7 separate regions of the Homo sapiens genome follow, and all the other regions are linked to region 1. The links come from fine-mapping of genetic effects on gene expression. A gene starts in region 1. Each other region holds a variant in brackets. All regions are shown on one strand. Distances are from middle to middle. Region 1 holds the start of PJA2 (praja ring finger ubiquitin ligase 2). Region 2 has its middle 28 kb from the start of PJA2. Region 3 overlaps PJA2 (praja ring finger ubiquitin ligase 2). Region 4 overlaps PJA2 (praja ring finger ubiquitin ligase 2). Region 5 holds the start of LOC105379119 (a long non-coding RNA gene). Region 6 has its middle 100 kb from the start of MAN2A1. Region 7 overlaps LOC105379117 (a long non-coding RNA gene).

Region 1 (4,000 bases):
AAAAAAAGAAAAACTATAAAAATTTCCCTAACAGTATAAAACAAGATGTGAATAAAATGGAGAGGCCACATTTCTGAGGAGAGAGACTCAATACTATAAAGATCAGTTGTCTCCAAATTAATCTAAAATTTCAATATAACCTTATTCAAAATAGCTAAGGATTTTTAGTTCAGTCTAAAGTTTACCTAGAAGAAGAAATGCATAAGAAACATTCAAGAATATTTTCAACAAGAGTAATAAAGAGGGAGAAAGGGTTACCAAAATTTAAAATATGCATAATCTTTTAACTGAGCAACTTCACTTCTAGGAACCCATGCTCCAGAAATAATCACACATAGAGGAAGTTTACTGAATTGTTAACAGTGGCTGACAATCAAGATGCAAGCAGGACTAGAAGTGGAAGCGGTAATTTTTACCTTACATTCTTCCATACTGTTTAATTTTTTAAAATCAAGGATGAATTAAAATTTGTAATTAAACATCGATCAATAAATTAGAAAGTTATTTTCATTATAAATCATCATTTGTAATAGCAAAAAGAAACTGCAATTAAATGTCTTTCAAAAAGGGAATAGAATAAATTATAGCCCATTCAAACTCACGAGATACCAGTTAGCCTTTTAAAAAGTATTAGGGAGACCTATATGTAAAAAGTAAAAATGTCCAACATATGTAATTAAGTCAATAAGCAAGCGGTATGCAAACATGTTTGGTATATGGTATAGCCTCCCTCAAAAAAAAAAACTTTACGTGTACTTGTATGTGTCTAGAAGTGCATTTGCAAGATTTTGAAAAATGAACACTAAACTGTCAACTTTACACTGGAGTGGGACTGGGGGATGAAAAGAAATATTTAAATTTTACCTAACAGTCCGTTATTTATATTGTTGAAGTGTACATCAAACTTGCATGTCTGCAATGAATTTTTAAAATTAAGTGGTCATCTCATATAAAAATGACATGAACCCCAAAAGACAATTACAACACTGAAAAATACAGTTTAAACGTTTATTACTGTTATCCTCAGGTTTATTCACATACACTTCAAATGATCCGTAGCCTTCAGCAAAGGTGACTGCCATTTTAAAGAAATGTGACCAAATATTTCATGATAAAACAGAATACATTAAGCCTGCAATGAAAATTTTAAACTTCACAGAACCAGCAGACTCAAAAGAAGCGCCTATGCGGATGTAAATTTTTTTTTTTTTAATGTCCGGAGAAGGAACTCTCAGATTACTCTCCTCCCTGCAAAACGACTATTTACCACCTCCCCTTTGCTTCAACTTGGTCTGAGCGTCTTTAACCTCACCATTTTGAATGTGCGCAAAATGATTACCAGTCATCTGAGGGAGGCCAAATTAAAGGTGCATCTGCAAGAGGAGCTCTGGCCTGACATCGCTAACTGAGAGCAGCCCTGGCGGAAAGGTGCTGATCCCGGGAGTAGAGCGACTGCTGCGGCTCGAGCGGGGTGTCTGCGTGCCGAGCCTCACTGACAATCGGGGAAAATGCAGACGCCCAGCAAAACGACGGCAACAGAAGGCTCCTCGGGGGAGGGGTGCTGCAGGCCTGTGGCGTAAGATGGTTCCGCTCTACGCGGGGTGACGGGAAACCGCAGAAGGTGGGTGTGAGGTGTTGGTTGGGGGGCAAACTCTTGTACAGTGGCGAGTGTAGGGGAAAGCCAGCGGGCTCCTTGGCCAAGTCACCAAGGACAGCAGAAGAGGCAGCAGTAAAGAGCGGCAGCGAAGACCCCGATACCAACCAATGTCATCTGTCGGGGGGCGGCGGGCGCGACCGTCCCGGATAGGAGCGCGGCCCGGGTCCGGGCTGGACAGGGCCCAGGAGGCGAAGAAGGCCTCCCACAGCCATCAACCCCACCCACCATGGCCGGCGCAGCAGGCCAGGGACAAGCCCCGCTCCTTCCGAAGCTAGAGACAGAGAAACTGAGGAGCTGAACGCAGCAATTTCCTCGCCCCGACCCCCACACTCCCGACAGCGGAACAAGCCAGACTGAAAAAAAAAAAAAAAAACCCTCACCGAAATGTGCAGCGGCTCCGGAGCGAGAACAGCGCTCGAACCTCCACCCGCCACCACCGCCTTCTTCTCCGCCTCCAACTCCTCCCCCGCCGAACGCGAAGCGGCTGGCGGCTGTGGCGGCGGCGGCGGCGGTGGCGGCGGCGGAAGCAGAGGCGGTGGCGGTGAGTCCCGCCCCTTGCGCCGCGGTGGAGGCGAAGGAGGAGAGTACGCAAGCCCCTCCCCCATAGCAGAGATGACCAGTCAGCTTACAGGGTCTCTGCTGGGGGACAATGCATACGCCCAATCAGAACCTGAGGAGTGGGCTCACGTCAATGGTTGGGACGTGGCAGAAAAAGGGAAAAATACTTGGACCTTCTCTACAGCCTGCTCCCCCATCTCCCTCAGGGGGAGTTCACCAATTGGCTGAAGAGCGGAAAGACGAAGCCGACTCAGTCCCCCGCCCCAGCCGAGCCCACCTCCTTTCCCTGCAGTACTGCGACGTTTGGGGAGGGGGCGGAGCACCGTGTAGGAGCTAAAACTGCGCGGCCTTTTGTGGTTTGGGCTGAGAGAAAAGGGCGGGGTCTCGGAAAGGGAAGGGGGTGTGGAGAACTAACAGAAAGACTGGCGCAGTTAGGCTTTTTCGGAAATTCCAACAGCAACAACCAAAATGGAGGCATTAAAATCGATCCTGATTCGACTGGAAACCTGATTAACAAGGTTAAGGTCTCCTGGCATAAAGTTCAGTTACAATGCAGATATCGGTGAGACAAAAAAAAAAAATGACACGAAGAAAGGCTTGTTTACCCACCCTGACCCTGGGCACTATATGGCGCTTTCCACCCTCCCTCTCCGCGCTGACCCTTGCCCCTCGCTTCTTATTCTGCTGGGGCGGGGTTCAGAGGAGGCCTGCCTTTCCTCTGTATAGCCTTGGGCTGACCACAGCCTCCCAGCTTGCATCTTGAGGCTGTTTGTCAAGCCGGGAAGTAACAGCTCCCATCACATGCAACCAAAATAAATACAACAGCTGCAGTCCCCGGACACCTTGCTTAATTTAAACCTGGGTAACAGTTTAGTTAATTATGTCAGTGATACAAAACTGTTTCTTCGTTCCGCACATATTCCCTTTATTCATCTTGAAACGTGTCCGCTTATCTGATTACAGTCCCTCTGTCTTCTCTTATTCCCCACCCCCGACCCGTCGCCTGATGCCCAGGATATATTCATCGCCACCCCTCCCCCGCGAATTAAGAGCCCCACTTCTTGTGCTGTCCCCTTAACAACAGCGAACTCTCTTGCCAGTGAACTGAGACTAATTTTTTTTTGCTGTTGATGGAAATAAATTACCCAAAATTTACTGTAGAAATTTAGGTTTATGAGAATTTGCCAGACATTTTGTGAAATCCAATCTGAATCCCAGCCCACTCCTGTAGTACGTTTCTTACCAAAAAACCATTCCTTGCTTGATATTACTCTGCCTTCACACGTGTTGCTATAGGAGTTCTGACTTTAACCATCCAAGTACCTCTTTGAAAAAAAACAAAATTCATATTTTAATTACATTTCCCTAGTTTCCCTTTAGGGTGTTCCAGATTGGCCCAACTGGATACATTAACCTGTTCTAGAAGGCAGGGATTCCCAAATTTCAACCTTTTTCATACTGTATCTGTGTATACTACTCACTGTCCTTTTTTCTTTAAATAAATGTATATTTTCTTTAATTTCTTTAAGAAGGAGACTTTATAAAAGTACTATAAATGGAAAACTAGCATCACCTATTATAAGTTGAAAGTAACTGTAAGAAAAATGAATGCAAAACAATGTTTTTAAATTGTGGCTAGAAACTGTTGTCCACTAAAGGCTCTAAGTCTAAAGACAACTGTCTTTGTTAAAAGGGCAAGCTACCAAGCATTAGACACACATTAAAGATACAGCACTCAAATGGTATTTTTATCATGATGTCATCAAAGGATAGAAAAAATAGAGC
Region 2 (4,000 bases), 29 kb after region 1:
CAAAGAATAGAACTATGGAGAAAAATATCTTGTAAACAGAAATAAACATCCTCAGCAAAGTATTATCAAATCAAATCTAACAACATATAAAAAGAACAATGCATTATGACCAAGTAGGTTTATTTGGAAAATGCACGGTTGGTTAAACATCTGAAAATCAATCAATGTAATTCACTGTGTTATTAAAATAAAAGGAAAAAGCCACAAAATCATCTCAACAGACACCAAAACATTTTTTAAAATTCAAGACTATTTTATGATTAAAAACTTGCAACAAATTGAGAATAGAAGAGGCTTTCCTCACATTAACTAAGGTCACTTATAAAAAACCCTACAGTTAACATCATTATCAGTGGAAAACAGCCCAATTCTTTGTATCTACAATTAGGAACAAACCAAGTTATGTCCATTCTTACTACTTTAACATTGCACTGAACAGCCTAGCTGATATAATACAAAAAGAAAAACAGGGTTAAAAACTGTAGAAATTGAAATGGAAAAAGTTAAACTGTCCTCATTTGCAGATGACTTGATTGTACATGTAAAAAACCCTTAGGAGTTTACAAACAAGGTACTAGAATTATTACAAGAATTTAAGATTTGCAGAATACAAAATCAATATTTGTAAATTGGATTTCTATATACTAGCAAACAATAAGCAATGAACAAAAAATTTTAAAACTCCATTTACAATAGAATTTAAAATATTATGGAATAAAGTTAATGAAAGCCATGCAAGCCTTGTACATTGAAAACCATAGAACATTGCAAAGCTAACTTAAAAAGACCTAAATAAATGGAGAACTCTAATTATGTTTACAGAGTGTAAGACCCAATATTGTTAAGATGACAACCTTCCCCAGGTGATCTATATCTTCAGTTTCATCCCAATCATAATTCTAATTGGCTTTTTATTTTTGAAGAAAATGAAAAATTGATTTAAAAACTCATATAGATTTATACATAAGAAATGAAACTATACAAATACTGGAAGAAAATATGTGTGAATCACTTTTTAGCATCAGTATTTACAAAAGCTTTCTGTGAGTCAAAATGCAGTAACAGGAAAGATTGATATATTTTATTAGGTGAATATAAAATGTTTACATATTAGAAACATCACAAATAACCTTAAAAGATAACTGACACACTAGATAAAACATATAGGAGAGATAAAGGGCTTATCTCTCAAATATAAAAATCACTCTTTCTGTAAAATAGAAGGGAAAACACACCAGTATCAAAAAGCACACTTAATACCCAGATCGTGGTTTCTAATACCATTCTCCAACGAAAGAAACCAGGGCTCCTTGGAGAAACGGCTGACTCTACCACTTGGGCAAGTACTATACAAGATGAGCCGGGAGCATCTTATAATACCAGAAAGTACGGAAATGCTGCACACACACACACGCCCCACCCCCCAAGCAAAACCTGAAACCCATATTGATGAGGGTGTGTCAAAGGTGCATAGGAGCCAACTTGAGAGAGTTCTTACTGGCTGAAGCTGAATCAGTTTGAGCAACAAAATAAATAAAAGGGTATTGGATTTGGATTATAGCCTAGGACAAAATACATATTCATGAGTCTATACTGATACAAATAAATGATTGAATAAAGTAATAAATGGATGAGAAGGAGCAAATCTTCTGTACAGAAGAATTTCAAATAATTTATTTAGCTACTTCACCCTCAAGGAGATGGAACATAATTCCCCACCCTGAAAGCGTGGGCTGTGCATAGAGACTTCATTTCAAAGAGTACAGTATAAAAGAAATGGGAAGAAGTAATTTTACAGTAGTTCTCTACTGACAAACACTACCTAAGCCAGGTTATTGAGGTTAACATCGATATTCATAAATCACTTGTTGGTAGA[A/T]TGTACCCTATGATGTGATGAGAGTGGCTCTCTACCTGTGAGGTCTTGCCCCACACAACCAATAACCCCAGTCTTAGAATAAGAAAAACAACAGACAAATTCTAATCGTGCAGCATCCTACAAAATACCTGACCAGTTCCTCCAAACTGTCAAGATCATCAAAAAGAAGCAAAGTCTGAGAAACTACACAGCCAAGAGGGGCTTAAGTAGATACACCTCTAAAATGCTATATTGTATCCCAGATGTGATCCTAGAACAGAAAAATAATTAGGTAAAAACTAAGGAAATTCAGATAAACTATGGACTTTATAACATTAATATATTAATAATAATGTATCAATACTGGCTCCTTAATTGTAAACTATGTGCCATACTAATGTAAAATGTTAATAATAGGGAAAACTGGGTGTAGGGTATATGGTAACTCTCTGTAGTATCTTCTCAAGGTTTCCATAAACCTAAAATTGTTCTAAAACATCTATTTCTAATTATATTTTGAAAATTAAATAAAATAAAAAACAGGGGGAAGAGGATAACTAATCATTAGAAAAATGGGAAAAAGACAGAAATAGACAACTCACAAAGAAGATATAAAAATTGCCCTTAAATATCTGAAAAGATCTTCAGTTTCACTCATAATTAGAGAAATGCAAATTAAAACCTTTATTTTGTCTTTGCAAAACCTTTTCTATTTTGGAAACAGCACCCTCTTTTGTTGAAAAGGTGCTCTCTCACCCCACTTGATCCCTCTGGTTCTAGTTAAAACTATCAGTTGTGCCGGGCAGAGTGGCTCATGCCTGTAATCCTACCACTCTGGGAGTCTGAGGTGGGAGGATCACTTGGGGCCAGGAGTCTGAGGCTGCAGTGAGCCATGTGCTCCAGCCTGGGCGACAGAGTGAGACTCTGTCTCAAAAAAATTAAATAAAACTATCAGTCATAACCATTTGACACATACTAATCACTCAGTTATTGTTAGCTAGTAACTTGTTATCTGGCTGTGGTAAAACCTACACTTGAGAAAATTTCTATTCATGCATCTATTACATTAGTATGGTACATAGCTTAGAGTTAATGAGCCAATATTGACACATCATTATTAACTAAAGTCCATAGTTTATCCAGAAATTGAAACATGGTCCCCTTGCAGGTTAGGAAGATTGAAAAGAGGTTAATAGTCAGTGTGGTAGGCATAGTGGAAACAGCTATGTTAGTAGAAGAATTTATATGTGAATTAGGACATACAAGTTCTTTACTGGGTCAGGCCCAAGATATATGCTATGTAATTAGATTGAAAGTTCCCCTGACTCTACTCCCTCTTTCCTACTTGCATGATCAATATCTATCATATCAGCCACCGCAGTGACATGTTTGGGCTGCTATTAATTTCTAGGGTAATCATCAAGAAAAACCATTAAGAGAGTCCCTTTCTCTGACACACACTACTTGTTCATCATAAAATTGAAAGTGTGTGGGGAAGAATATCTTACATCAGAGGCCATTTGGGCCTCATTTACCTCTGTCCCCAGCTCTGAGAAGATGTTCATTTGCAGGTTTTAGATGATTGGGTCCTCTGTATAGTGGTGGATGGTGAAATCCAGCTTGTGATATCAGCCATTTCCTGATTACTTTATTCTTAGTAAACTGTAGATTCTCACTTTGTTTACAGATATTTTCTGGTTTCTAATACTGTAGCCATGGTGGCTTAGTTTCTGATCTCAGTATATAAATCCCCAAACAGACAAGCATTTATAAGTGGGCTTAGGCAGAGTCTGCTAACAATTGTCAATTTCTAGGAGTCCTGTGTCACTGATTAAACCTGAACTACCCGGGAGACCACAGGAAACACTGGAACGTGAATTTATCAACTTAAAATGAAAAATATCATGGGAATAAGAAGACTCATAATCAGAGTGAAGAACTTATTCTCGCCTTTAAGGTACATGTGATTAGAAGGTTATGTGGTAGACATAGAAATCTTAACAACAGGCATTAGATAAATCAAATGTTTGTTACTACCAAGGCTGATAGGTCCATATCTTTATGGATATAGTCTTGCTACAGGGATCAAGGTACTCAAAATATGATACCCAAGATTCCCTTTACTCAAGAATCTGCTGAGATGGA
Region 3 (4,000 bases), 63 kb before region 1:
TAATTGGCAGGCATTTCTGTCTAATACTTGGCAATTTGGAATCTAATAAATACTGCTTTGTAAAAAAGCTGACAGAGGAACATTTGTCTCAGCCTATCGCTTGAAAATTAAAAATATTCTTGTACTAGGTGAAAGTTTGTGAGCATCTGGTTTCTATAAAAAAAATCTAGTGAAAGTTTCTAATAATCAAGTATTTAATTATCTAGGTATATTGATAATATACTTAAATGTACAATGTGTTCTTCAACATTTGAGATCAACTTTGCCCTTACCAGTGTGATCTTCAAGAACAAGGGTCTCTGGAAGACCATCAATGCTTTCCTTACTAGCTGGTGGATTGGCCACCTCAACATCCACTGCAAGAGACTCTAAATGGGCCAGAGCAGTCTGAAAAACAAAAGGTACAGTTCTTTGTTAGAAATACTTTAAAACAGTAACAGAAAACTATTTTTAGGGTATCTCCAAAATTATATCACCATTATTCTCTTTTTGTTAGTTTCTTTTGCTTTAGTCCTTTGCTCCTTTTGCCTCTTCAGAAGGAACTACCACCATCACCAACAAACCAAAACATTAAATATACACGCAGAGCCCAACTTTCTACATGTGAAATAAAAATATACCTTGTCTCGGCCGGGCGCAATGGCTCATGCCTGTAATCCCAGCACTTTGGGAGGCCGAGGCGGGGTGGGTCACTTGAGGTCAGGAGTTCAAGACAGCCTGACCAACATGGTGAAATCCCGTCTCTAGTAAAAAAAAAAAAAAAAAAAAACAAAATTAGCAGGGTGTGGTGGCACATGCCTGTAATCCCAGCTACTTGGGAGGCTGAGGCAGGAGAATTGCTTGAACCCAGGAGGTAGAGGTTGTAATGAGCCGAGATCAAGCCATTGCACTCCAGCCTGAGCAACAAGAACGAAACTCCATCTCAAAAAAAAAAAAAAGCAGGTCGTGGTAGTGTGTGCCTATAATCCCAGCTACTGGGGAGACTGAGGCAGGAGAATCGCTTGATCCTGGGAGGCAGAGGTTGCAGTGAGCTGAGATCACCATGCACTCCAGCCTGGGTGACAGAGCGAGACTCTGTCTCAAAAAAAAAAAAAAAAAAAAACTACCTTGTCTCAATAATCATCTACTTCTCCGTATTTATATTTTGAAGGAGTGGTTACTTTTTCCAACTATTGGTTCCTATGTGAGATCAATAACATGAAAGAAAATAATAAACATTTTGGAAAGGTTCACTTCATGAAAGATAAAATGTGGCTGAGGCTACTAGAAGCTCCAGGTATGGAAGCAAATAATGCACTCCTGAATGGCTACATCTACTACTGGCATGGATTTGGCGCACCCACATTACCAGCTCACAAGTATTACTAGGTTATCTGGGTTGTGAATTTCATTTACAGGTTCAAATATCTGTGTCAAATTACTGTTCTAAGAAGGATGGAAAGAACATCAGATCATGTGATCATCTGGGATGCGTCATCCTCATCCTTTCTGGCTCTAATTAGACTAGAATGGCAGTTGAGACTTTTGTCTTTTTGTCTGCAACCTGTACAATTACTTGCTCTTGGTGCACATGCTGCTTCCCCTGCCTGGTGCTTTCTGTCCATCCTTTAAGTCCTATCACTCCCTCTGGGACTGC[A/G]TAAGTCCTGTCTCTTCCATGAGGCCTATGTCAGTGGTCCTAGACTGCACGAGTATCCTTCTGAACTGCTACTGTATTCAAAGAATTGGTATTACACCGTTTAATTATTACTTGTTAGTATTATATCCTAATTACAGCATCATAAGATCATGGAGCTATGAAAGACCTTGGCTTCTTTTTAGGGATGAAAAACCTGAAGGAAATTTGACAACTATCAAAACTGGGCCTCCCCTCCTGGTTGGAGTGCAGAATATTACAGCTGCTAGAGAAAACAGCCCAACAATTCCTCAAAATTAAAAACAGAATTATCACATAATCCAGCAATTCTAGTTCTGGGTATACACCCAAAAAGAACTGAAAACAGGGACTAAAACAAGTATCTGTACACCCATGTTCACTGCAGCATTATTCACAAGAGCCAAAAGGTGGAAGCAAATCAACTGTTCATTGGTGGATGGATGAATATGCAAAATGTGATATACACATACAGTGAAATATTACTCCGCCTTGAAAAGGAAGGAAATTCTAACACATGCCACGACATGGATGAACCTTGAAGACATTATGCTAAATGAAATAAGCCAGTCACAGAAAGATAAGTACTGTATGATTCTTACATGAGATACCTAAAGTAGTCAAATTCATTGAGACAGAAAACAGAATGGTGGTTGCCAGGGGCTGGAAAGATGGGAAAATGGGGAGTTACTGTTTACAGCAATGTGAATACACTTGATTACACTGAACTGTACACTTTAAAAAACTGTAGCAATAGTAAATTTTATATTATGTTTATTTTACCATAATAAAAAAAAATGAACAAGCCAGGTTTCCCATATAGAAGAAGAATTCTGCCTGATAGCTTAGCTAACACTCTATTCTTCTGGATGGCAAACATAATATTTATACATGCCTAAGGTCCTACCATAGATATTCCCAAAAAGAATTTGAGATGACTTATAATAGGGATTACAACTTGCCTTGGGCCAAGCCCAAAGCAAAATCAGGACTAAAAAAGGAAAAAGCAAAACGGTTCACAAAGAGTTAATAAACATAGTTAATATTATTGAACACTAAATTTGACTCTGGATATGCAGAGAAACACTGCAAAAAGAAAGAAACACTGTTCCAGTAATTGAATTATTGCTTCTCAGCTCCAAATACACCTTTCATTTCTGCCCTTTGAAAACAGATTTGGGCCTTTTAAATATTTTTCCTTTTGTTAGCTGACATGATTTTAAGTTTTGTCAGCAGAAGGTGCTGGAGAGACACAAGGAAAGGACTTTGCTTCATGGTTCCCTTGGGCTTGCCCCTGCAGTGTGCCAGGCTTCCCTGTGCACAGATGGCTTCTCCAGCATCAGACTCCTCCAGTGTGGGTGGCTTCTCCAGTGCCTGGCTCTTGAAGCACATGCTGCTTATCCAGTAACTGGTAATTACAGGACAAGGTTGCCAGCAGCTTCTCCTTGTACTCATCTTAGGTGGTTCTGCAGCAGAGTACCTAGGGGCTTGGTCACATCACTGTGAAGTTTCTCTTGCCCCAGAGGGCAGATTTTTGCCATGTTCCAGAAGGCAAATTTCCAGCAAGTTCTGCCAGCACAGTACCATAAATACTCCTCCATAAGCCATGGCTGTGTCCTTCCCAATAAGGTCTGGCTCTCAGCCTTAGACAGGAGGGAAGTAGAGTGCTCCATCTCAGCCCTAAAGCTGTTTCTTAAATCTGCTAATCCTATATTCTTTAGAGTTTGCTTTACTTCCTACTAGCCAATCCCTTGGTATTCTAAACTTCTGTTGCAGTTAATATTTACAGTAAATTTTCCCTGTTCAAATTACTGTATTTCTCTCTCTTGGGACTGAACTCAGACTGGTACAGAATTCATATTAAGAGTGGTCCCGGGACACAGAACTGGCAAGAAAAGGATTTGGGGGTTGGTTTGGTTACACCTGTTGAGCTTGAGCTCAGTGTTGAGCTCCTTGCCAATGAGAATGGGATGCTATTAATCCATAGTCTGTAGTGGCATCACAATTAATCAAGGTATCACTGTGGTTGACAGTGATGAAGATCCAACTGAAGCATGTGTCTTGAAAGCCCAGATAGCTCCTATACTTGATCTTACGGCAACAGTGATCTAACTGTAAAAATCGTGATGTGAGATGGATTATTAAGAGTGCCCTTGTGCACTTACAGAAAAAAATTACAAACTCAGGTCTCTTAAACCTCACAATAGGGTATGAGAGCCAGAAAGCATCCACGACAGCCCTAAAAGATGCTCTTGCTCCTAAAAATCAAACGCAAAATGTAATTGTGTGGATTGCTAAATGAAAATTAGAGTTGACTTCTTAGTCTCATCAAATTTCTCAAAAGTTTTA
Region 4 (4,000 bases), 36 kb before region 1:
TTTTTAGCCTCACATATCAGGTGAATACAACAACAGTATTTAATAGTTCACTGGGTTCATGTAAAGGGTAAGTGAGTTAATATATATAAAACATTTTCACAATGCCTGATAAATAATGAGCCATCAATAACTGTTAGCGAGTCTTTTTTTAACATTTTTTTAAACTCAAATACATTTAGTTAGGATAAGCAATAGCCATTAAGTCCTGAATTTGATGTGCTACCTATATTTTCTTAATTTCCATTAACATAAATACATAATGATTAAATTAAAAACATTGTGTACCACTTAATATATTTTACCCACTTTGGAAATAGTGACCTATAGAATAAAAAGTTAAATGTCTTTGAATAACACTTATAATTTACTGCTATCTGATCCCAGTACTTTCTTGCATCCAACTCAAGAATGCTCTATTTCAAACAGTGTCCTCAAAGTGGGCATTCTTGCCATCAGGAATATCTTTATAATCACTTCACCTTTTCCCCACTTCCAAACACAGATCAGACTCTATTTCTTTCAAGACCTTCCTGTATAAAATCGCTTCTTTTGTTTTTCAATTATTTCATGAACTAGACTTCTTGTTTACTCAGTGCAGCTCACTACAACACAGCTGCTTCTTTAACATTGCAATTATTTTTCATAATAGTGCAGAGAAATCAAAGAAAATGGGTACTGAGAAAAGACAAATGGATGTGGAAATCAGGAGGTCACCACTGACATTAAAGAATATAGGGCCGGGTGCAGTGGCTCATGCCTGTAATCCCAGCACTTTGGGAGGTTGAGGCAGGTGAATCACCTGAGGTCGGGAGCTCGAGACCAGCCTAAGCAACATGGAGAAAACTGGTCTCTACTAAAAATACAAAATTAGCTGGGTGTGGTGGCGCATGCCTGTAATCCCAGCTACTCAGGAGGCTGAGGCAGGAGAATCGCTTGAACCTGGGAGGTGGAGGTTGTGGTGAGCCAAGATGGTACCATTGCACTCCAGCCTTGGCAACTAGAGCAACACTCCGTCTCAAAAAAAAAAAAAAAAAAAAAGAAAGAAAGAAAAAAAAATTAGCCAGGCATGGTGGTGCACACCTGTAGTCCCAGCTACTCAGGAGGCTGAGGCAGGAGAATTGCTTGAACCCAGGAGGTGGAGGTTGCAGTGAGCTGAGATTGCACCGCTGCACTCCAGCCTAGGTGACAAAGCGAGACTGTCTCAATAAAAAAGAATACAGAAATAATATTAGGAATTAGATTTCAAGGCAGTAAGAAGAGTGGATAGTGACAGAATAGAGACAGTGGGTATGGAAAACTTTTTCTTAAAATTCAGCAGTAGAAAAGAAAACACAAACAGGCAAATAACAGAGCAAGAAAAAGTAAAGGTTTTCTTCAAGATTGAGAAAAACTCAAGGTTGAGAGACAGAGGGAAGCAACCTGTGAGTAAGGACAATTAGATGAAGTGTCAGAAATAACTAGAGGCACAGAATGAGAGGGGCTACCTCTCTTCATTGAAGAGGAAATTAAAAATACAAATAAATACTACTATCCCCTAATATGGAGAAGAGGAAAATAAGAAAATTCACATTTACATATTTTTAACTTCTACAGGAAAATAAGAAACGAAGCTAACCATTAGGAGTGACAGGAGTACATGGAAGGAAAAAAGGGAAAAGATTTAAAAATCACTTTTTAAGGAGTAAGCAACAGAACAAATAGGACACAAAAATGATCATGGAACAGTGAAGATCCATTTGTTCTAGATTTTAAAAGCGGGTGAATGACACATTTAAAAGTTCTCAAAGTAAAAACTAAATTAAGTACTACTTTGATCTTCATATGATCCTTCACTGGTACTGATCCCTTTTAGCACCTAAGAGTTGTATTTAAAAAGCAGACAACTATAATTTACTCAAATGTTACACTCTACACATTCAATTGTGAACTAAAAAAACTTGA[T/C]ATACAGAATGAAATTATAGACAAAATTTATGTACAAATCCTAGGCAGAAATAAGCTATGGAAACATAAAACCAACCAAAAGTAATCTCTCATTCCATAATTCCCCAAGGTACTTGTTACTTTGTTCTTCCTGGCATTTATCACAGCCACAAGAAACTCAACTACAGGAGCCTAGGAAAAAGTGAAATTTTAAATATTTTGTTATCTGACATAATCTAAACATTCTGGAACTTTTTACCACTATTAACACTGAACTGTAATGTAATACAGTGATATGAATGGATTATGTCCAAATATATAAGTCTGCTTAATTTCATTAAGATGGCTATGATTTTTGCATTGTGCCTGCTTTTTGTCACTTTCTGGTCTTTTTCCTTAGTATCAGGTTATTGTAATCCCATGAACTCCCTAGCATATCTGCAGAACAAACACATTTATACCTAATGTGCTCCTTCCAAACTTCTATGAACTTGAAAACAAGATAAAAAGGTTTGCTAAAATGTCAGCACATATGCTTTAAGATCTGTGCCTTGGCTGCATATAGATGTTTTATTTGTTGGGGGTAGTACCAAGTTCTCAGACAAACTCTTTCTTTGTGGCTCTCAGGTAACCTACACGGAACAGGAAAGGCGCTTAATTCAGCCTCACAATAATAAATACGTATATTTTGTCTTCTTCATAAAGCTAGTGAACCTTGTGGGAACAGGGACCATTATGATTTGTATTAACAGGGCACCTGGAACAAAGTCTGGCACTTAAGATTTCAACAAATCCTTTAATATATCATATTGAAGTCAACTAAATGGCTAACAATCATTTTATTTCCCAACATCATCAACAAAGTAAGTTGTCCCAACATTTTACCTTAAGTAAGGTTTTTAAATTTTAAGCAAAGTTAAGTCCTAAGGCCACAAAAATTCTGCAAGAAACCTCAAATGCTATAAGTAAGGAACAGACAGTAGATGGCATGCCTCTCTTCAGAGCAGTTAGGCCCAAGGTTAAGATATGCTAGTATTGCTGAAAGGTTTTTTTTAAACTCAAGATCTTGTCCTCAAACAGTTACTAAACTTCTCAGGGTATATTTCAAAAGAGCAGGGTATTAACCTTAGCTCTTTGGTCTAATTCTAAGTCTGGTAATTATATGCTGCCTATTAAAATTCCCCTTGGAATCCTAATTTAATAAGGTGGTGCTCAGTACCTGTCAAACAGCTCAGAGCAATGCTACTGGCTGCAATGTTTATCCCACAGAGTGTAACATTTCAGATGTGATTAAATGATCATTTAGAATTTTTCAGGGAAGAAGGCAATCATGAATTCATTAAAATACTTTTCTACTTAAAAAGAATATATAATTCATATTTTTAAAAAGTAGCCAAAATTCCTATATCTAAAAATGCTGGCCGGGTGCAGTGGCTCACGCCTGTAATCTTGACACTCTGGGAGGCTGAGGCGGGTGGATCACTTGAGGTCACAGGTTCAAGACCAGCATGACCAACATGGTGAAACCCCATCTCTACTAAAAATACAAAAATTAGCTGGGCATGATGGCATGCCTGTGGTCCCAGTTATTCAGAAGGCTGAGGCAGAAGAATCACTTGAACCTAGGAGGCAGAGGTTGCAGCGAGCCGAGATCACGCCACTGCACTCCAGCCTGGGCAACAGAGAGAAACTCTGTCTCGAAATAAATAAATAAAAAATAAAAAAATAAAAATGCCACAATGAACTTTAGTTATATTCTTGATGAGTTCTACTTTGGCTATTATAAGCATGACAAAAAAAAACTTTTCAAGTATATCAACTTTTTAAGCTTTACAAAAAAACTCAAAGTTCACAGGCCCAAATTAAGCAGCAGCTCTTATACTTTCCATCCAAAACCTGAGAAGACTAGCATCACCATCTCTCCAATCTACAAATACAAGAACTAGGGAGGATGACAATGAAACATCAGGGAGATGAACAAGGGCAAAATGAAACTAAATAGGAGTGTACAGCTATTAAATTCCAACCTTTAGCTGGCACCATATTAAAAAGGCACCCTGGCAACTATAATCCTTTGCAG
Region 5 (4,000 bases), 500 kb after region 1:
TGTGGAAATTGAAGCAGACCGTAGTTCATATTGTGTGGGAAATTTAAAGAGGTCTAATAGCCAGTAAGCAGGTATGTGAGTCACATCTCCCTGATGTTGTTCACATTCCAGTTGCTTGTTTTTTCACTCTAGTCCTGTGGATTCTAAAGTAGTACAACTCAAGTGACATCAGTTCATGAAGACAAAAGAAGCTTTTTGTTTGATTTTGGCTGGGTGGGTGTTTTGTTCAGGCAAGTATTGAGCAGAAGAAAAAATGTCTTTATAAATCCTTAGCTTAATGGATTTTTAAAAAATCAAATGTAAATTCTATTAAACTACTTTTCAGTTATCACATAATTTACTTAGGCATTTCTGCATAGCAAAATATATTTGGTCTAAATGCAAAGGGAAAAAAGTGATTTAACTTTGCAAGAAACTGTTCCTTTGTTTTTTTAAAAATAAGTATTTTTAAATTTTATGGGTACATAGTAGATGTATTATTTATGAGGCACTTGAGTTATTTTGATATAGGCATACAATATGTAATAATCACCTCAGGGTAAATGGAGTATCCATCACCTCAAGCATTTATCATTGCTTTGGGTTACAAACATACCAATTATACTCTTTTAGTTATTTTTAAAAGTACAATAAATTACTGTTGACTATACTTGTCTTTTGCTTTTAATCATTTAAAATAACATCCAAGACACAATTCTTGTAAAAAGGAAAGTTAGAAAGTTGATTTTTTACAGCATGTAAAATAAGTATATTTAGGTATGTAGCACCTTCCTGGAATAATAGGGGAGTCAATAGCAAAGCCTGTGTCCATTGTGTGTCACTGATGCATGTGTTGTGTAGAAAATCAGGAGGAACTATGGATAGGGCTCAGGGTATGAGTGCTGGCTCCGAACCTGATATTAGCTGTGACTTGAGACAAGTCACTTGACTATGCTGTCTTAATTTTCCAGTATGTGAAAAAGTGAAAGAAATAATATGACTTATTTAGCCCACAGGGTTGTCTACAGCAGAGGAGGAAAAGATGAATGTGATTAACATATTCAGCTGGGAAAATATGCAGCAAGTTTCAAATGAGAGCTGTGAGGTACAAAGAGAAGAAGGTTGAGAGAAAATTTGGAAGTGAAGAGCTAAGGGGCCCAAAAGTAGCATCTAGAGTGAGAAGAATGGGCTAGAAGAAAAGTAGCAGTGGGTTTGATGCGTAGAGAGAGGCTGGCATGAGCGTGGACAAGATACCATCACAGCAGAAAACATGGAGCCACTTGGTGATGGGTTGGAGTCTTCTACATTGACCTTGATGCAGTGTGTATCTTCTGTTAACCATCCCCATGCTGCAATCTGTGACAGGATGGAATTTGTTGTGAATCCTTGTAGGGTCAGGGCCAGGAATCAGTGAGAATGACTGCATTGTGTTGATACTTGAGTCCCCTGCCAAGCTTGGTAGATAGGAACAGTCCACGCGGTGGCTGAGAGTGATGAGGTAATAATTGAAGAGACAGAGTAAAATGAACAGAAAACCACTGGGTGTTCAGTGCACAGAACTTCTTGGCATGCTGGATTTATCCAGCAAGAAAAAGAAATAGAGGGAAGACATTGGCTGATGATCTCTCGCTTGTAGACTTAGTTGCTTAATTGCCAATGAGGGAGAGATGCTGCTTGCAGGTGAGTTGCCAAAGTGAATAAACATGAGTTATGTTAAGAAATTAACAAAAGATAAATTTCAGGCAAGTTTCTGGAAAACACAGACTGGTGAGAAGATCCACTGGACTGTGAAAAAGCCTTACCCTTGGAAAGCGGAGGGAGTGCCATCCTTTAAGATATTTAAAACAAGACTAGCTAAAGCATCTGCTAGAATCTTATCCAGAAGGGAAAAATCCAGATCTGGCAAGAGATGAACTAGCTGATGTCTGGGAGCTCTCACACCTCTCATTCTTGATGTTGAAAAGCTGTGGTCAAATCCCTGAACATTTTCCCGAGCACATTTAAGACTGGGAGCTGTGTGAATCATTAGTCATTCTGGTAATCTCTAGGAGGCAGTGCCAGCTGTGGAATTTTGAGCAGATGTGGCAAAACAGCAGAAACCACCTTTTGGATTCATATCCTCTTGTCTCTCACTCTTATCCTTGGAAGAATCTGAGCATATTTTTAAAGGGCAAGTTAGGTGGTAGTAGAGTTGTTAAAAAAGAAAAAAAAGAGAGAGAGAGAAATCTGTTTGAGAGAGAGAGCTTCCAACTTCCTAATTTATATTAAGGGGAGAATAATTGTAAATGCCCAGATTTAAGTACAGTAAACTATGCCTTGATCTAACCATTATAGGACTCTGCCCAACCC[A/G]GAACAATTATCAACTGTTAATTATGCGTTTGAGCATGAGGCCCAGCAAATTGATAATTCCAGACCATCTTCCCTCTGCTGCCTATCTGTTTCTAGCCTGTCCCTTGGCTATTTGCTAGCAGAATAAACTATATCCTTGATAAGACTGCCATTTGAGAAAAAAATCCGTCTGGAAGGACTGGCAGAATAGAAGGGATAGGAGTGCTGCCTTGATAAGTCATAAAGACCATCTGTCAGCTCTGAATCTCTGATCTAGGCTGATTGGGGAAAAGACAGGTGCAGATTGAAGTTGAAAACAGTTTTTTTGAATGAATTTGTCAAAAGTTTGCCTTACTTAATTTCCACGAGGGTCTAAACCTGTGACTTTGAATCGGCCCTTGAGAGTGACATTTCCATTGCCTGACTCTCACACACATGTTGTGTAGAAAGGCAGAAAGAACCATTGATAAGGCATCAGAAACTCAGGGAATGAGGCCTGGCTGTATGTGACTTTGGACAAATCACTTGACTGTGTTATTTTAGCTTTCTGGTGTGTGAAAAGGTAGTAACTCTCTTTTAGAGTTAACCCACAAGGTTGTATTTATTAAGGGAGGAAAAAAAGGAGCAATTAATGTATTTTCTTCTGAAAGAAAAGCATTTAGATTAGAACAATTTGTCCTATCAAAAGCCAATTTCTCTATTCACTTAGTAACTGCAGCTCATCTCCTTTTACTTACTTAACTCCAGAAGTTCATCTTGTGTTCTGTATCATTAATATTCCCCATCAACTGGATCATTCCCATGGGTATACAAAAACTCTTAATATTTCTCATGTTAAAAGAACAAACACAAAAGAACTTTAATTCCCAGTCCCATGTCTTTCTCCACCTACTGCCCACTTGCACTGCTCCCCTCCATGACAAAACACTCAATGGAGTTGTCTATACTGTCCTTCTGCTTGCTCATCTTCCAGTCTGTTTTTAACTCATTTCATCAGGCTTTGTTCTCATCACTCATTTGAACCTGTTCTGGTAAAGTCACCAGTGACTTCCACATTGCTGAATCTAGTGATCACCTTACAGCACTCATTCTTCGTCAACTCTCTGCATCATTTGACACAATTTTTTACTTCTTGAAACACTCTTCACTTGACCTCCAGGCTGTGACAATTTTCTCATACTCATTCTGTCTCCTCAACTACTTTTCAGGCTTCTCTATGGGTTCCTTATCTTCTTTCTGATCACTGTTTTGGAGTTTGGGGGGGCTTATTTATCAGATTTTTGTCTTCTCTGTATTGTTAGGTGACTCCATCCAGTTTCATGGCTGTAAATATTATCTCCAGCCTCAACTTGTCCTTTGAATTACAAACTCCCATCAAGGTGCCTCTGTGGCATTGCCAGTGTCTATCTAATAAGTTTCTCAAACTTAGCATGTTCAGTACATCTATTCAGTTAGTCAGGCCAAAGTTCCAGGAGTTAACTTTGAATCTTCTTCCTTCATATCCTAAATCCTACCCATCAGCAAATCCTGTCCATTCTTCAAATTATATATCCAACTATTCTCCACCAAGTTCATGACTACTATCCTATCACTTGATCATTCTATTAAGTCATTAATATCCTATTCTATCATTCTATTAAGTCACCATCATCTCTCATTTGGACTAGGGTGAAAGTCTTGTAATGGATTTTGC
Region 6 (4,000 bases), 180 kb after region 1:
AATATGAAAGCACTTAGAATTTGCCACTTCTTTGGGCCTTCATTTGCTTAAGTATCATGTAAAACATTAAATAAATTTGTATGCTTTTCTCCTACTAATTTGTCTATGTCAATTTAATTCTCAGGCCTAGCCAAAAAAACTCTAAGAGTGTAGGGGTAAAATTAGCCTCTCCTATAGTGTGTGTGTGTGTGTTTATATATATATATATATGTTTATATACATATATATGTTCATTTATTTATTTATTTTACAGACTTTATGTTTGTAGAGCAGTTGTTTTAGTTTCCTAGCAAAACCGAGCAGAATATACAGAGATTTCCCACATACTCCCTGCCTCTCACATGCATAGCCTCCTCCATTATCAACATATTTGGTAGTTTCTTACAAAATTAAACATTTACCATATGAACCAACAATCACGCTCCTTGGTGTCTACAAGGAGTTGAAAACTTATGTCCACACAAAAACCTGCACATAGATGTTTCTAGCAACTTTATTCATAATTGTCAAAACCTGGACGCAATCAAGACCTCCTTCAGAGGCAAATGAATACATAAACTGTGGTAAATCCACACAGTGGAATATTATTTGGCACTAGAAAGAAATAAGCTACCATGCCGCAAAAAACACATAAAGAAAACTTAAATGCATATTATTAAGTGAAAGACGTCAATCTGAAAAGGCTACATTACTATACGATTCCAACTCTATGACATTCTGGAAAAGGCACAATTATGGAACCAGTAAAAAGATCACTTGTTGCCGAAAGTTGGGGTTGGGGGTGGGAGAATGAATAGGCAGGTCACAGAGAATTTTTACAGTGATAAAAATATATGATTATGTTGTCGGCAAAGCCCGAGTCTTGTCCTCTCGCTCTCCTCCCCGGACAGCATGAGCTTCACCACTCGCTCCACCTTCTCCACCAATTACCAGTCCCAGGGCTCTGTCCTGGAGCCCAGCTACGGTTCCCTGCCAGTCAGCAGTGCAGCCAGCATCTATGCAGGAGCCGGGGGCTCCGGTTCCCAGATCTGCGTGTCCCGCTCTGCCGGCTTCCAGGACATGGCGGCATGGGGCCTGGGAGCCTGGCAGGAATGGAAGGCATCTAGAACGAGGAGACCCTGCAAAGCCTGAACGACCTACCTGGACGAGTGAGGAGCCTGGAGACCGAGAACTGGAAGCTGGAGAGCAAAATCTGGGAGCACCTGGAGAAGAAGGGACCCTAGGTCAGAGACTGGAGCCATTACTTCAAGACCATCGAGGACCTGAGGGCTCAGATCTTTGCAAATACTGTGGACAATGCCCGCATCATTCTGCAGGTCAACAATGACTGCCTTGCTGCTGCTGACTTTAGAGTCAAGTATGAGACACAGCTGGCCATGCGCCAGTCTGCGGAAAGCGACATCCGTGGGCTCCACAAGGTCATTGATGACACCAATGTCACTCGGCTGCAGCTGGAAACAGAGATCGAGGCTCTGAAGGAGGAGCTGCTCTTCATGAAGAAGAACCACGAAGAAGAAGTAAAAGGCCTACAAGCCCAGACTGCCAGCTCTGGGTTGACCATGGAGGTAGATGCTCCCAAATCTCAGGACCTCGCCAAGATCGTGGCAGACATCTGGCCCCAATATGACGACCTGGCTCGGAAGAACTGAGAAGACCTGGACAAGTATCGGTCTCAGCAGATTGAGGAGAACACCACAGTGGTCACCATGCAGTC[C/T]GCCAAGGTTGGAGCTACTGAGATGACGCTCATGGAGCTGAGATGTACAGTCCAGTCCTTGGAGATTGACCTGGACTCCATAAGAAATCTGAAGGCCAGCTTGGAGAACAGCCTGAGGGAGGTGAAGGCCCGCTACACCCTGCAGATGGAGAAGGTCAATGGGATTTTGCTGCACCTGGAGTTAGAGCTGGCACAGACCCAGGCAGAGGGACAGTGCCAGGGCCAGGAGTACCAGGCCCTGCTGAATGTCAAGGTCAAGCTGGAGGCTGAGATCACTACCTACCGCCGCCTGCTGGAAAATGGTGAGGACTTCAATCTTGGTGATGCCCTGGACAGCAGCAAATCCATGGAAACCATCCAAATACCACTACCCGCTGGATAGTGGATAGCAAAGTGGTGTCTGAGACCAACGACACCAAAGTTCTGAGACATTAAGCCAGCAGAAGCAGGGTACCCTTTGGGGAGCAGGAGGCCAATAAAAAGTTCAGAGGTCAAAAAAGTATACTATGATGTTAGATATATGTCATTGTTCATTTGTCCAAAGACTGTCCTTAGAATGTGCAACACCAAGAGTGAACTGTAATGTGAACTATGGATTTTGGGTGATAATGATGTGTCAATGTAAGTTCATCAATTGTAACAAGTGTACCACTTGTTGATACCATTAGGTCCAATTTCTTTGAATATACTGGTAATGAATAATACATTGTAATTAGGGGATATTACCACTTTAGAGTAAATTAATGATATGTTCCATTCCTTCTCCTCTTTCCTGTATTTTCATTGTGAAAACCCAAAAGAATTTATGTGGAGAACAAAAATTTCTTAGTTTGCGGGGAGAAGAGAGAAAACGAAGCAGGGAAAGCTAGCACCCTATTTGTAGGATCAGAACAGGTACTTATCAGAACAATTGAAAGGCACAATACGTGAGTTTCACAGGCAGTGGGGAGAATGTGTTTGAGAGCCGGGGCTCAGCCCTGAGAGGGCAGGTCTTAGTGAAAATATGTGGGCATTAGGTGCTCCTGATGGGAGAGAAGGCAACAAAAGGGGGCACTAGAGGTGTTGATATCAAAGCAGCTGTTGCACATATTTTTTCACAGAGCCAGCCACACTTCAGCTATGCTGCACCCACATTTATCTAGAAACAAATAAGGTGCATGAAAGCTCCTAGGGCTTTAAGCTTTTAAAAAGCTCAATGCAATTTCCAGCTTTTGCAGTTATTTAATCAAGGCAAGCAAGAGGGTTATAAATTCAACAACTTTGTGATTGAGATTAATGTGCTCAGAAGTTAACTCTTGCCTTCACAGTCAACTGAGAAGAGAACATCAGACATTAAAAATTCTCTAAATTAAATCTGCCTGCTTGGTGGCCTAAAACAAAACATGGCTCCTAGAATATAACCTTTTCATGGTTGGCAGCAGAGCCAGATTAAGTGGTGGCCAGTTAGGACATTAACCTAGACTTGCAATCTGTAAAGGCTGATAAAGCATCACTAATAATGTCACAAAATGAGTAAACATGGTTTCAAACCAGAATTTATTTCTGGAAGACTGTTCTATGACTAGAAGGAAACTTTTTATTATATTATATAAGGCTGATGATAAACTAGCCAAGAAGTTTTCTTAAAACTCTGTCTTCATTTAAGCTGAGACTTCAAAAGCTGAGAATAACACAACGAGTTATAGATATCAAGTGATGCTCATATTCTTAAAATAAAGTGCTAATCCACCATGCAAAGAAGCTCCACCAATTTTGCAGGTTTAGGCAAGCACCCATTTGAGGCTATAGACAGGTGTGAGTTGAAGTTGTTAGGTTGGGGGAGAGTAGTGGTTTTTGGAGGAAGTTAGTGGAGTACTGTGGCTGTCCCATCCTAGGCAATGTTAGGGTGGTAGAGTGTGTTTACCCCCACCTTAAGGAAGAAGAGCTTAAAGAAAATTACTTAAAAAGTTTGACTTATGTTCCTGAGGTTTGTAGGGAGCTGTGACTGGACAAGTATAAAGACGGGAGAGTATGGCTGCCTTGGTGGCGTCAAGAGACGAAGCAGCACAGTGGGTACAAGGCTCACAGAGGCCAGTATGTAGACTGCTGGGCTGGCTGGTCACACTTTGAGATTCAGCTAGTAGCAGGTAAGGTGACAAGCTCTCATGAAATGTTTTTTCCAAGTGGTTTCAGGTAGATTCCTATCACACAGCAAAAGCAAGATCACTACGGTGTTAGTTCCTCACCTCTCTAATGCTGGAATACAGTGCCAGGGGGTGGTGACACCGAATGAGAGGGGTGGTGTGG
Region 7 (4,000 bases), 130 kb after region 1:
AAACCAGAACGCCTCTTCTCCTCCAAAGGTCCACAACTCCTCGCCAGCAAGGGAACAAAACTGGATGGAGAATGAGTTCGATGAATTGAAAGAAGTAGACTTCAGGAGGTGGGTAATAATAAACTCCTCTGAGCTAAAGGAGCATGTTCTAACCCAATGCAAGGAAGCTAAGAACCTGGAAAAAAGGTTAGAGGAATATCTAACTAGAATAACCAGTTTAGAGAAGAATATAAATGACCTGATGGAGCTGAAAAACACATGAGAACTTTGTGAATCATACACAAGTATCAATAGCTGAATCAATCAAGTGGAAGAAAATATATCAGAGATTGAAGATCCACTTAATGAAATAAAGCATGAAGACACGATTAGAGAAAAAAAGAATGAAAAGGAATGAACAAAGCCTCCAAGAAGTATGGGAATATGTGAAAAGACCAAACCTACATTTGATTGGTGTACCTGAAAGTGACGGGAAGAATGAAACCAAGTTGGAAACACTCTTCAGGATATTATCCAGGAGAACTTCCCCAACCTAGAAAGACAGACCAACATGCAAATTCAGGAAATATGGAGAACATTGCAAAGATACGTCTTGAGAATAGCAACCCCAAAACACATAATCATCAGATTCACCAAGGTTGAAATGAAGGAAAAAATGTTAAGGGCAGCCAAAGAGAAAGATCTGGTTACCCACAAAGGGAAGCTCATTAGACTAACAGCAGATCTCTCTGCAGACACCCTACAAGCCAGAAGAGAGTGGGGGCCAATATTCAACATTCTTAAAGAAAAGAATTGTCAACCCGGAATTTCATATCCAGCCAAACTAAGCTTCATAAGAGAAGGAGAAATAAAATCCTTTACAGACAAGCAAATGCTGAGAGATTTTGTCACCACCAGGCCTGCCTTACAAGAGCTCCTGAAAGAAGCACTAAATATGGAAAGGAAAAACCGGTACCAGCCACTGCAAAAACATACCAAATTGTAAAGATCATCAACACTATGAAGAAACTGCATCAACTAATGGGCAAAATAACCAGCTAGCATCATAATGACAGGATCAGATTCACACAACAATATTTACCTTAAATGTAAATGAGCTAAATGTCCCAATTAAAAGAAACAGACTGGCAAATTGGATAAAGAGTCAAGACCCATCAGTGTGCTGTATTCAGGAGAGCCATCTCATGTGCAAAGACACACATAGGCTCAAAATTAAGGGATAAGGGATGGAGGGATATTTACCATGCAAACGGAAAGCAAAAAAAAAAAAAAAAAAAAAAAAAAAAAAAGCCAGGGTTGCAATCCTAGTCTCTGATAAAACAGACTTTAAGCCAACAAAGATCAAAAAAGACAAAGAAGGGTATTACATAATGGTAAAGGGATCAATGCAACAAGAAGAGGTAACTATCCTAAATATATATGCACCCAATACAGGAGCACCCAGATTCATAAAGCAAGTTCTTAGAGACCTACAAAGAGACTTAGACTCCCACACAATAATAGTGGGAGACTTTAACACCCCACTGTCAATGTTAGACAGATCAATGAGACAGAAAATTAACAAGGATATTTAGGACTTGAACTCAGCTCTGGACCAAGTGGACCTAATAGACATCTACAGGGCTCTCCACCCCAAATCAACAGAATATACATTCTTCTCAGCACCAGATTGCACTTATTCTAAAATTGACCACATAATTGGAAGTAAAACACTCCTCAGCAAATGCAAAAGAATGAAAATCATAACAAACAGTCTTTCAGACCACAGTGCAATCAAATTAGAACTCAGGATTAAGAAACTCACTCAAAACCACACAACTACATGGAAACTGAACAACCTGCTCCTGAATGACTGCTGGGTAAATAATGAAACTAAGGCAGAAATAAATAAGTTCTTTGAAACCAATGAGAACAAAGATAAAACATACCAGAATCTCTGTGTCACAGCTAAAGCAGTGTTTAGAGGGAAATTTATAGCAGTAAGTGCCCACAGGAGAAAGCAGGAAAGATCTAAAATCGACACCCTACCATCACAATTAAAAGAACTAGAGAAGCAAGAGGAAACAAATCTAAAAGCTAGCGGAAGACAAGAAATAACTAAGATCAGAGCAGAACTGAAGGAGATAGAAACACGACAAACCCTTCAAAAAATCAATGAATCCAGGAGCTGGTTTTATGAAAAGATTAA[C/T]AAAGTAGATAGACCACTAGCCAGACTAATAAAGAAGAAAACAGAGAAGAATGAAATAGTCACAATAAAAAATGATAAATGGGATATCACCACTGATCCCACAGAAATACAAACTACCATCAGAGAATACTATAAACACCTCTATGCAAATAAACTAGAAAATCTAGAACTGGTAAATTCCTGGACACATACACCCTCCCAAGACTAAACCAGGAAGAAGTCAAATCCCTGAATAGACCAATAACAAGTTCTGAAATTAATAGCCTACCAACCAAAAAAAGCCCAGGAACAGATGGATTCATAGCCGAATTCTACCAGAGGTACAAAGAGGAGCTGGTACCATTCCTTCTGAAACTATTCCAAACAATAGAAAAAGAGGGAATCCTCCCTAACTCATTTTATGAGGCCAGCATCATCCTGATACCAAAACCTGACACAACAAGAAAAGAAAATTTCAGGCCAATATCCCTGATGAACATCGATGCGAAAATCCTCAATAAAATACTGGCAAACTGAATCCAGCAGCACATCAAAAAGCTCACCCACCATGATCAAGTGGGCTTCATCCCTGTGATGCAAGGCTGGTTCAACATACGCAAATCAATCAACATAATCCATCACAGAAACAGAACAAATGACAAAGACCACATGATTATCTCAATAGACGCAGAAAAGTCCTTCAATAAAATTCAACACCTCCTTATGCTAAAAACTCTCAATAAGCTAGGTATTGATGGAATGTATCTCAAAATAATAAGTGCTATTTATGACAAACCCACAGCCAATATCATACTGAATGGGCAAAAGCTGGAAGCATTCCTTTTGAAAACTGCCACAAGACAAGGATGCCCTCTCTCACCACTCCTATTCAACATAGTATTGGAAGTTCTGGCCAGGGCAATCAGGCAAGAGAAAGAAATAAATGGTATTCAAATAGGAAGAGAGGAAGTCAAATTGTCTCTGTTTGCAGATGACATGATTGTATATTTGGAAAACCCCATCGTCTCAGGCCAAAATCTCCTTAAGCTGATAAGCAACTTCAGCAAAGTCTCACAATACAAAATCAATGTGCAAAAATCACAAGCATTCCTATATACCAATAATAGACAGCCAAATCATGAGTGAACTCCCATTCACAATTGCTACAAAGAGAACACAATACCTAGGAATAAAACCTACAAGGAATATGAAGAACCTCTTCAAGGGGAACTGGAAACCACTGTTCAAGGAAATAAGAGAGGACACAAACAAGTGGAAAAATATTCTGTGCTTATGGATAGGAAGAATCAATATTGTGAAAATGGCCATACTGTCCAAAGTAATTTATAGATTCAATGCTATCCCCATCAAGCTACCATTGACTTTCTTCACAGAATTAGGAAAACCACTTTAAATTCATATGGAATCAAAAAAGAGCCCATATCGCCAAGACAACCCTAAGCAAAAAGAACAAAGCTGGAGGCATCACGCTAACTGACTTCACACTATACTACATGGCTACAGTAACCAAAACAGAATAGTACTGGTACCAAAACAGATATATAGACCAATGGAACAGAACCGAGGCCTCAGAAATAACGCCACAAATCTACAAACATCTGATGTTTGACAAACCTAATGAAAACAAGCAATGGGTAAAGATTCTCTATTTAATAAATGATTTTGGGAAAACTGTCTAGCCACATGCAGAAAGCTGAAACTGGATCCCTTCCTTACACCTTATACAAAAATTAACTCAAGATGGATTAAAGACTTAAACATAAGACCTAAAACCATAAAAACCCTTGAAGGTAGGCAATACCATTTAGGACA

Evidence for each region.
Region 2: its variant is fine-mapped to the expression of PJA2 in whole blood (INTERVAL, PIP above 0.99).
Region 3: its variant is fine-mapped to the expression of PJA2 in whole blood (INTERVAL, PIP above 0.99).
Region 4: its variant is fine-mapped to the expression of PJA2 in whole blood (TOPMed, PIP above 0.99).
Region 5: its variant is fine-mapped to the expression of PJA2 in whole blood (INTERVAL, PIP above 0.99).
Region 6: its variant is fine-mapped to the expression of PJA2 in whole blood (INTERVAL, PIP above 0.99).
Region 7: its variant is fine-mapped to the expression of PJA2 in whole blood (INTERVAL, PIP 0.99).

The regions. Positions count from the first base shown.
Region 1 is chr5:109,407,805-109,411,804 of GRCh38, forward strand. It overlaps PJA2 (praja ring finger ubiquitin ligase 2), which reads right to left and starts at 2,170. Exons shown (of 10, transcript NM_014819.5): 1 at 2,038-2,170. RefSeq lists enhancers at 1,255-1,354, 1,395-1,514, 2,625-2,804 and a silencer at 2,035-2,114.
Region 2 is chr5:109,436,389-109,440,388 of GRCh38, forward strand. No RefSeq gene overlaps it. Among named protein-coding and RNA genes, the nearest start is that of PJA2, 28 kb to the left of the region's middle. The variant A/T (reference allele first, on the strand shown) is at 1,877.
Region 3 is chr5:109,344,433-109,348,432 of GRCh38, forward strand. It overlaps PJA2 (praja ring finger ubiquitin ligase 2), which reads right to left. Exons shown (of 10, transcript NM_014819.5): 8 at 273-387. Among named protein-coding and RNA genes, the nearest start is that of PJA2, 64 kb to the right of the region's middle. The variant A/G (reference allele first, on the strand shown) is at 1,637.
Region 4 is chr5:109,371,889-109,375,888 of GRCh38, forward strand. All of the region lies in intron 4 of PJA2 (praja ring finger ubiquitin ligase 2), which reads right to left. Among named protein-coding and RNA genes, the nearest start is that of PJA2, 36 kb to the right of the region's middle. The variant T/C (reference allele first, on the strand shown) is at 1,942.
Region 5 is chr5:109,905,963-109,909,962 of GRCh38, forward strand. It overlaps LOC105379119 (a long non-coding RNA gene), which reads left to right and starts at 1,541. Exons shown (of 3, transcript XR_948667.3): 1 at 1,541-1,659. The variant A/G (reference allele first, on the strand shown) is at 2,329.
Region 6 is chr5:109,587,448-109,591,447 of GRCh38, forward strand. It overlaps the pseudogene KRT18P42. Among named protein-coding and RNA genes, the nearest start is that of MAN2A1, 100 kb to the right of the region's middle. The variant C/T (reference allele first, on the strand shown) is at 1,715.
Region 7 is chr5:109,539,061-109,543,060 of GRCh38, forward strand. The region is part of intron 5 of LOC105379117 (a long non-coding RNA gene); the gene reads left to right. Among named protein-coding and RNA genes, the nearest start is that of PJA2, 130 kb to the left of the region's middle. The variant C/T (reference allele first, on the strand shown) is at 2,189.